Linked DNA regions of Homo sapiens: region 1 is linked to region 2. Evidence: fine-mapped expression QTL. A gene starts in region 2. The other region holds a variant in brackets. All regions are shown on one strand. Distances are between the middles of the regions. Region 1 overlaps CATSPERD (catsper channel auxiliary subunit delta). Region 2 holds the start of NRTN (neurturin).

Region 1 (4,000 bases), 35 kb before region 2:
TTCATCATCGAGAAGTAAGCCAGCGTCCCCCCGCAACACCTGACACCCAAGGCGACCATTGGGCCTGCAAAAGCCAAGAGCAAATTAGGAATTTTATTTATTTATTTATTTATTTATTATTATTATTGAGATGGAGTCTCGCCTGTCGCCCAGGCTGGAGTGCAGTGGCGCGATCTCGGCTCACTGCAAGCTCCACCTCCCGGGTTCACACCATTCTCCCGCCTCAGCCTCCTGAGTAGTTGGGACTACAGGTTCCCGCCACCAGGCACGGCTAATTTGTTTTATTTTTAGTAGAGATGAGGTTTCACTGTGTTAGCCAGGTTGGTCTCAATCTCCTGATCTCGTGATCCGCCCACCTCAGCCTCCCAAAGTGCTGGGATTACAGGCATGAGCCACCGCGCCCGGCCTATTATTATTTTTTAAGAGATAGGGTCTGGCCCTGTGGCCCAGGCTGGAGTGCAGCGATGCGATCATAGCTCACCACAGCCTCGACCTCCTGGGCTCAAGTGATCCTCTTCCCTCAGCTGGCTGGTCCCACATGCTGTCCGGCTCAGTGAGCATGTACTGCCACGCCCATACGAGAGTCTGGGCCTCAGTCAATTTGTGCTGCTTTAAAAGACTACCTGAGGCTGGGTGATTTATAAAGAAGAGTTATGGCCGGGCCCGGTGGCTCACGCCTGTAATCCCTGCCGAGGTAGGCGGATCACTTGAGCTCAGGAGTTCGAGACCAGCCTGGCCAACATGGCAAAACCCCATCTCTACTAAAAATACGAAAATTAGCCAGGCATGGTGGTGGGCACCTGTAATGCCAGCTACTCGGGAGGCTGAGGCAGGAGAGTTGCTTGAAACTGGGAGGCAGAGGTTGCAGTGAGCCAAGATTGAGCCACTGCACTCCAGACTGGGCAACAGAGCAAGACTCTGTCTCAAAAAAAAAAGAGAGAGAGAGAGAGGAGGGAGGAGGCTGGGTGCAGTGGCTCACACCTGTAATCCCAACACTTTGGAAGGCTGAGGCAGGAGGATTGCTTGAGGCCAGGAGTTTGAGACCAGCCTGGGCAACCTAGAGACAAAAAAAAAAAAAAAAAAAAAGAGGGTGGTGGGATGGGGGGAGGAGGTGCCAGGCTCTTAAACAAGCAGTTCTCATGGAAGCTGAGAATGAAAACCCACTCAGTACCATAAATATGGCTCCAAGCCATTCATAGCTCTGCCGTTGTGGCCTAAACACCTCTGACTAGGCTCCCACTCCAACACTAGGGATCCAGTTTCAGCAGGAGCTTTGGAAGGGACAAATATCCAAACCATACGAAGACCCCTCATTGCACCCAGCATGAGGGAGCTCCTTGCCACGCGAGTGCACACTTCCATGTGATTTGTAAGACCTGAGCCCTCAAATGCAAGTCAAGAGTCAGTTACCCATTTAGAGCTGAGGCCTAAACTAGTGCTTCTGGGCTGCTAAGGGGCAGTGACTTTGGAACCTGCGGAGGACACAGAGGGGAGTGTCATCTTAGTCTATGTGGGCTGTATTGCAAAATGCCTTAAACTGGGTAATTTATTAGTTGGTGCAAAAGTAATTAC[G/A]GTTTTGGCCGGGCAGGGTGGCTCATGCCTGTAATCCCAGCACTTTGGGAGGCCGAGACAGGTGGATCACTTGAGGTCAGGAGTTTGAGAGCAGTCTGGCCAACATGGTGAAATCCCGTCTCTACTAAAAATACAAAAATTAGCCAGGCGTGGTGGCACATGCCTGTAGTCCCAGCTACTCAGGAGGCTGAGGTGGGAGAATTTCTTCAACCCGGGAGGCGGAGGTTGCAGTGAGCTGAGATCACGCCACTGCACTCCAGCCTGGGCAACAGAGCGAGACTCTGTCTCAAAAAAAAAAAAAAAAAGTAATTACGGTTTTTGCCATTGAAAGTAATGGCAAAAACCGGCCGGGCGCAGTGGGTCACCCCTGTAATCCCTGCACTTTGGGAGGCTGAAGTGGGTGGATCACCTGAAGTCAGGAGTTCAAGACCAGCCCAGCCAACATGATGAAACCCACATCTCTACTAAAAACACAAAAAATTAGCCGGGCGTGGTGGTGGGCACTTGTATTCCCAGCTTCTCAGGAGGCTGAGGCAAGAGAATCACTTGAACCCGGGAGAGAGAGGTTGCAGTGAGCTGAGATTGCACCACTGTGCTCCAGCCTGGGCAACAAGAATGAAACTCCGTCTCAAAAAAAAAAAAAAAAGGCAAAAACCTCGATTACTTTTGCACTGATCTAATTTAAGGAGCAGAAATTTTGCTGGGCTTGGTGGCTTATACCTGTAATCCCAGCACTTTGGGAGGCTGAGGTGAGGGAATCACTTGAGGCCAGGAGTTTGAGACCAGCCTGGGCAACACAGCAAGACCTCATCTCTACAAAAATTTAAAATATTAACCATGCGTGGTGGTGCGTGCCTGTAATCCCAGCCACTCGGGAGGCTGAGGTGAGAGGATTGCTTGGGCCCAGGAGGTGGAGGTTGCAGTGAGTCATGACTGCATTACTATGCTCCAGCCAAAAAATTAACTAGAACAGAAGTTCCAATATCATCTGGTCCATGGCTCTCAATCGCCCACCTCAGATGCCACCTCCTGCCACTCTCATGGACGATCCCCATTTGCAAAAAAGAAACTGCGGCTGTGAAGGGTTGGCAGACTGGGCAGGAACTCACAGACTCCCCATCTCTGCTTCTTGGTGTCTTGAAGGGAATTCTACGACCCCGGCTTCCAGGGGCAGCAGTCCTCCGAGGACCTGCACGTGTTTTACTCCTACCAGCAGCTGGGCTGTCCTCTCCTCGTCTACTATGACACCCTATGGAAGCCCGTGGTGGAGCTGTAAGACCCCAGGGGGGTGCTGCAGGGTGGGGACGGTGGCAGGGCCTCATGCTCCCTGGCCCTGGGGTACCAGCCTGGCCCTCCAGGCTCCCCTAGATCCCTCAAAATGATGATGGTCACTGTTTCCCACCGTGCTCCTGCCCCAGCCCCACTGGCCCCCAGGGCCCTCTCCCTGGAACACCTTTTCTTTTTTTGAGACAGGGTCTTGCTCTGTCGCCTAGGATGGAGTGCAGTGGCATGATCTCAGCTCACTGCAGCCTCTGTCCCTTGGGCTCAAGCGATCCTCCCACCTCAGCCTCCCAGGTAGCTGGGACCACAGGTGCCCACCACCACACCCAGCTAATTAGCAGAGATTTGGTTTCACCATGTTGGGCAGGCTGGTCTTGAACTCCTGACCTCAGATGATCCGCCTGCCTTGGCCTCTCAAAGTGTTGGAATTACAGGCATGAGCCACTGCGCCCGGCCGATGGGCTTTTCTTTATGCCTGTGCACTCCTGCTGTCTTCCTGTTCTTTTTTTTTTTTTTTTCCACTCTGTCACCCAGGCTGGAGTGCAATGACATGATCTTGGCTTACTGCAACCTCCACCTCCAGGGTTCAAGCGATTCTCCTGCCTCAGCCTCCCGAGTATCTGGGATTACAGGCGCGTGCCACCATGCCTGGCTAGTTTTTGTATTTTTAGTAGAGATGGGGTTTTACCATGTTGGTCAGGCTGGTCTCGAACTCCTGACTTCGTGATCCACCTGCCTCAGCTTTCCAGAGTGCTGGGATAACAGGCGTGAGCCACCATACCTGGCCATCTTCCTGTTCTTATAAGGACACCAGTCTTATCAGATCAGGGCCCACCCTACATCCTATGACCTCATATAGCTTTTCTTTTTCTTTTCTTTTTTCTTTTTTTCTTTTCTTTTCCTCCCTTTCCTCCCCTCCCTTCCTTCCTTCATTTCCTTCCTTTCTTTCTCTCTCTCTGTTTCCTTTTTTCTTTTTTTTTTTTTGTGTTGGCGTCTTGCTCTGTTGCCCAGGCTGGAGTCCAGTGGCATGAACACAGTTCATTGCAGCCTTAACCTCCCAGGCTCAAGCGGTCCTCCTGCCTCAGCCTCCCAAGTAGCTGGGACTGCAGTTGCATACCACAATGCCCGGTTAATTTTTTTTTTTTTT
Region 2 (4,506 bases):
TCCAGACGGGGCCCGGGGTGTATGTGTGTGTCTGTGTGTGTGTGTGGGTGTGTGTGTGTGTACTAACCAGTGCCAGGCAGCGTGGGGGTGTGTAAGGATCTGCTGAGAGTGTGTGTGTGTGTGTGTGTGTGTGTGTGTGTCGGGCTGAGTGAACCCCGGGTCTGTGGGCATGAGTGCATTCAGAAGGGCGTGGGGTAAGGAAGGACCCCCGCAGGAGAGTGTACGCGTGACCTTGTGAGATACTCGTGGAGGGGTTGTGTCAGCGTGTGTCTGCGTGTGAGGACCCGGGGGTGGGGCGGGGTGTGACAGTGCAGGAGTGTCTGTGCTCACTAGGGCGTCTAGGTTTGTGTGAGAAGGAAAGATAGGCCGGGCGCGGTGGCTCACGCCTCTAATCCCAGCACTTCGGGAGGCCGAAGCGGGCGGATCACGAGGTTAAGAGATCGAGACCATCCTGACCAACATGGTGAAACCCCTTCTCTACTAAACTGGGCGTGGTGGCGCGCGCCTGTAGTCCCAGCTACTTGGGAAGCTGAGGCAGGAGAATCACATGAACCCAGGAGGCGAAGGTTGCAGTGAGCCGAGATTATGCCATTGCACTCCAGCCTGGGCAACAGAGCAAGACTCCGTCTCAAAAAAAAAAAAAAAAAAAAGAGAGATGGCAGGGGGGGTGACCCCACCGGGAATAAAGGTTTGAGGGTGTGTGTTTGAGGTTAGGGTATGTGTGTCACTGGGAGTGGGTTTCTGGGAGTGAACATTTGGGAACACTAGTAATGGCAGACATTGGGACATCACCCCCAACTTGCCAGGCTTACTCACTTACTTATTCACATTTACTCATTACTTATACAAGCTTGTTCACACTCATTCAGTCCTTACTAGAACACAGTGAAGATCTACTAGTAATACCCTGTTACAAGTGGGGAAACTGAGGCACGGGGGGGAAGGCCCAAGGCCACACAGAACACAGATCCCTGTTAACTTCCATCCTAGATCTGGGAACAGGCTGCCACTTCTCTGACATAGGTCCGTTCTCTCGTCCCCCCACCCACAACTCACATTCCAGCACGCACCCCGCGCACGTGCACAGCACCGCGTGCATCAGCCCGCGTGCAGCAGGAGGCGAGGCTGCGTGAGTGTCCCCATCACCGCGCGCACTGCGCGGCCCCGCAAGTTTTACAGGCGCTTTGTGGGGACGTGCATATGTTGGGGTTAGGGATCTTCTAGGAAGGCCTAATCTGCATGCGAACCCCCAGGCTGCTGGAATCAGAAACATGCAGGCAGCCAGGGCCGGAGTGAGGAGGAGGCCCCAAGAACCTCAGCGGCGGGAGCGAGAAACCAGAGCACGGGGGCTCCAAGAACGCAGGCGGCGCGGGGAGGAGTCTGCAGGGCGGGAGTTTTTCGGTCACCCCGCGGGGCGGGGGCGGGGCCGCAGCAGTCCCAGCCCAGCTCAGCCATCCCAGTCCCGTCCCCGAGTTAGCCCGGCGCCGCCAGGGAGCGCTGTGGGAGCGCGGAGCCGTCGGGGAGGAGCCCGGGTGGGTTTGGGCTCCCCTGCCCGTGAGCCTTGGTGCCAGGAGGGGGCGCCGGCGGGAGCTAGGAGCGAGAAATCCCCTGCAGGGCTCTGAGGCCGCACTGGGGGACTTACTGCTTGATGGGGGGCGCTGAGGACAGCGGGTGTCGTCATCCGTCCGAGGGGAAGACTTTGCGTCTCAGTTCCCTGGAAGAGCTTTCTTGGGAGGGGGCTTCTTCAGCTTCTGGGGAAGGAGAACCTGGGACGAGATTGGAGGGGGACACCCCAATCCTCAGTGGGGTGGGGGGAGCTGTATGCGGGGGCCACAGCTGTTGGGGTGTGGGCCATGGGTCTTAGTTCGCCAGAAGGGGTCGGGGGAGCGTCTTGGAGCTCCGGATTTAGGCAAGAGGAGCCGTCAGGGGTCCCCGGAGTGAGGATGGGAAACAGCTAGTTTGAGGGGGGCGCCGCTCTGGGGGCTTCCCTTGAGGGGCTTCTTTAGTGAAGGGACTTCTTGGCGCCTTGTTCTCTGGAAGGGGACCTGGGACAGGTTTGGGAGGTCTGGCAGAAAGGTCAGATCCTCGATAGAATGTGGGGGGCGCCAAGGGCCACAGGCACTGGCGTCGGGACAGCTGCGGCTCTTAGACACCTTCGGAGGGGGTGTCTTGGGGTCCCGGCTCTCCCGAAGGGGAGCCGTCGGAGTCCCCGGGGCCGGGGGAGAAAGCCGTCTAAAGGGGGCTCTGTGGTTGGTTCCCGCGCCTCTGCCACCTGCGCTCCTCCGGTCCCCTCCGGCGGGGGCGGGGAGGGCGGGGAGGGCCGGGGAAACCCGAGCCACCGCCCCCAGCCCCGCCCCCGGCCCCGCCCCCGGCCCCGCGCCGGCCGAGCCGTCCGCGGCGGGACGGGCGGAGGCGGCGGGAGAGCGCGCCCTGAAGCCGCTCCGAGTGCCCAGGTCCCTCTCGCCGCCGCCCCGGAGCCCCGTGCTGCGCGCCGAGGCCGCCTGCGCCGTCCGTGCGCCCCCGCGCCCCGCGCCCTCTGAGCCGCCGGCCGTCCAGGGCACCCACCCCCAGCCCCAGCCCCCGCCGGCCCGGGATGGCCGCAGCCCGCGGCTAAGCGAGCCCGGGGGGCCCCATGGGCCGGCCCGCGCCGCACCCCGCCCGCGGCCGCCCCCTCCGGCCCGGGCCCCCCCCGGGCACCGCGGGCCCAGGCGGCCCGGATGGCGGTCGCGGCGGCTGGGGCAGGGGCTGGGGCCGCGCGGCCGCCACTGACGGGTAGTCCGGCGCCCACAGCAGGTAAGCAAGGGGCAGGCGGGGCAGGTGGGGGGGCAGCAGGGTACGACGGGGACGACCTGCCCCATGGACGGGGCATGGAGGGTGCTGAGGACTCCGAGTAGACCAGGGGATTCCCTCCTGCAGCAGAACCAGCGGGTGTATGAGGGTGGGGTCAGAGGGACGACAGGTCAGCGCGTGGGGAGGGGCGGGGGCGTGAAGCCAGATCCTAAGCGGCTCTCCAAGCCCGAATCCAGCCGCGGTGTCCCTGTCCGACGGGGCGGGCGCACTCCTGTCTCCTAAAACCTCCAAGTGTGCATCTGAGGAACGCACGGTGCCCTCCCCAGAATCCCCTTAGCCTCTAGGAGGGCGAGACCCAGACAGCCCTTTAGCCATGTGGTCTCCAAGGGGCCGTTGGGGGGCTTCCGGATCCTGCAGAGCCCGGGCGGGGGGCTGCCGTCGCGGTCCAGCTGCGCACAGAAGTAAACATCTGTCAGTGGCGCGTTCCCTGCTCGCCGCCGCCGCCGCCGGGGACACGGTGTCCTCCGGTGAGGGCCGGGCCCTCTCGGCTCCTGGAGCAGCCCGTTCAGCCACCAGAGGGCGTGAAACCCTTTGGTGTTGGGGGTGGGGGTCCCTTAAGGGCAAAGCCTGGATGTGAAGTGGCGGGAGGCTGTGCCTGCCTTTCCTGCTTTTTATAAAAGGTGTCTCCTGCACGGGGATAGCCCCGAATTGTCCCAGGAGGTGGTTTGTGGATTAGGAGTTATTAGGCCCAAGGGGGCTGCAGACAGATTAGTGGGGAGGGGGGTGTGCTGGAGAGAGAAATGGCTCTCCCAGGGTGAATGCCACCACTGTCCCCTCCCCAGAACGCATCCGACCTGCCCACAGGCCTGTGATTACCTGCAGGGCTCGTCATTGGTCCAGATTTGGGGAGTGGGGCCAGGGGCTTAAAGCAGGGGGGTGCAGGAGGCCGGACCCCTGACTTTCCTCCCTCTTGCCTGTCTCCCCTGCCCTTTCCCTGTTCTCTACATCCTTGTCCCTGTTCCATGGCCCTCTTTGTCTGTCTCTGAGTGCCCCGGGCTGAGGAAGCCTGGGTGGGGTGTGACCAGCCTCAGAGGATGTCAGTGAGGGGCAGGATCCCACCCACACTGCCAGCTTCTCCCACCCCCAGCTTCTTGCCTTGGGGCCCTTTGGACACCCCTCCCTCCTCCCTTCATCCTAAGACTCCCGAGGTTCATAGCTCCGGCACCGACTCCACCCCCAGGGAGCTACAGAAAGCTTCTTCCAGGGGTGCAGGGAAGAAAATAAAACATTCCCCTCTTCAGCTGGGTACTGCATCTGAAACTCCACCATCAGCACTGGCCCCTCGGCGTTTCAGGTCCCAGTTTTCAGGGAGCGAACAGAGGAGACAGCTTTCAAGAGCTGGGCAGAAGGGACTCAAAAAGTTTGCAGCCGGGCACAACACAATCAAAAGATTGTTTCGACAAATGTGTGTCGATGGCAACCGCGTGGTTGACTGGTGTCAGGGTTGTTGGGTGCTGTCCTTCAAGGGAGGCAGATTTAGACCCAGGGACACAGGGCTGGGGAAGCTCAGAGTGGGGATGGAGGGCTCTACCTCAGGGTAGGAATGTCAGAGAAGACTTCCTGGAGGAAGGGCCTCAGAGGTGGGGCTGTGAAGGATGAGTAGGAGTTTTCTAAGTGGGAAAGGAAAAGGCATTCCAGGTGGCTGTGCATGCAAAG

What was found. PIP is the estimated chance that this variant, and not a neighbour inherited with it, causes the effect. A credible set is the group of variants that fine-mapping cannot tell apart.
Region 1: its variant is the best candidate, but not a certain one, in a credible set for the expression of NRTN in whole blood (TOPMed, PIP 0.85).

Annotation. Positions count from the first base shown.
Region 1 is chr19:5,768,229-5,772,228 of GRCh38, forward strand. It overlaps CATSPERD (catsper channel auxiliary subunit delta), which reads left to right. Exons shown (of 22, transcript NM_152784.4): 18 at 1-14; 19 at 2,716-2,844. Among named protein-coding and RNA genes, the nearest start is that of PRR22, 15 kb to the right of the region's middle. The variant G/A (reference allele first, on the strand shown) is at 1,573.
Region 2 is chr19:5,802,659-5,807,164 of GRCh38, forward strand. NRTN (neurturin) reads left to right here and starts at 2,409. Exons shown (of 3, transcript NM_004558.5): 1 at 2,409-2,793. RefSeq lists a silencer at 1,300-1,599 and an enhancer at 1,300-1,594.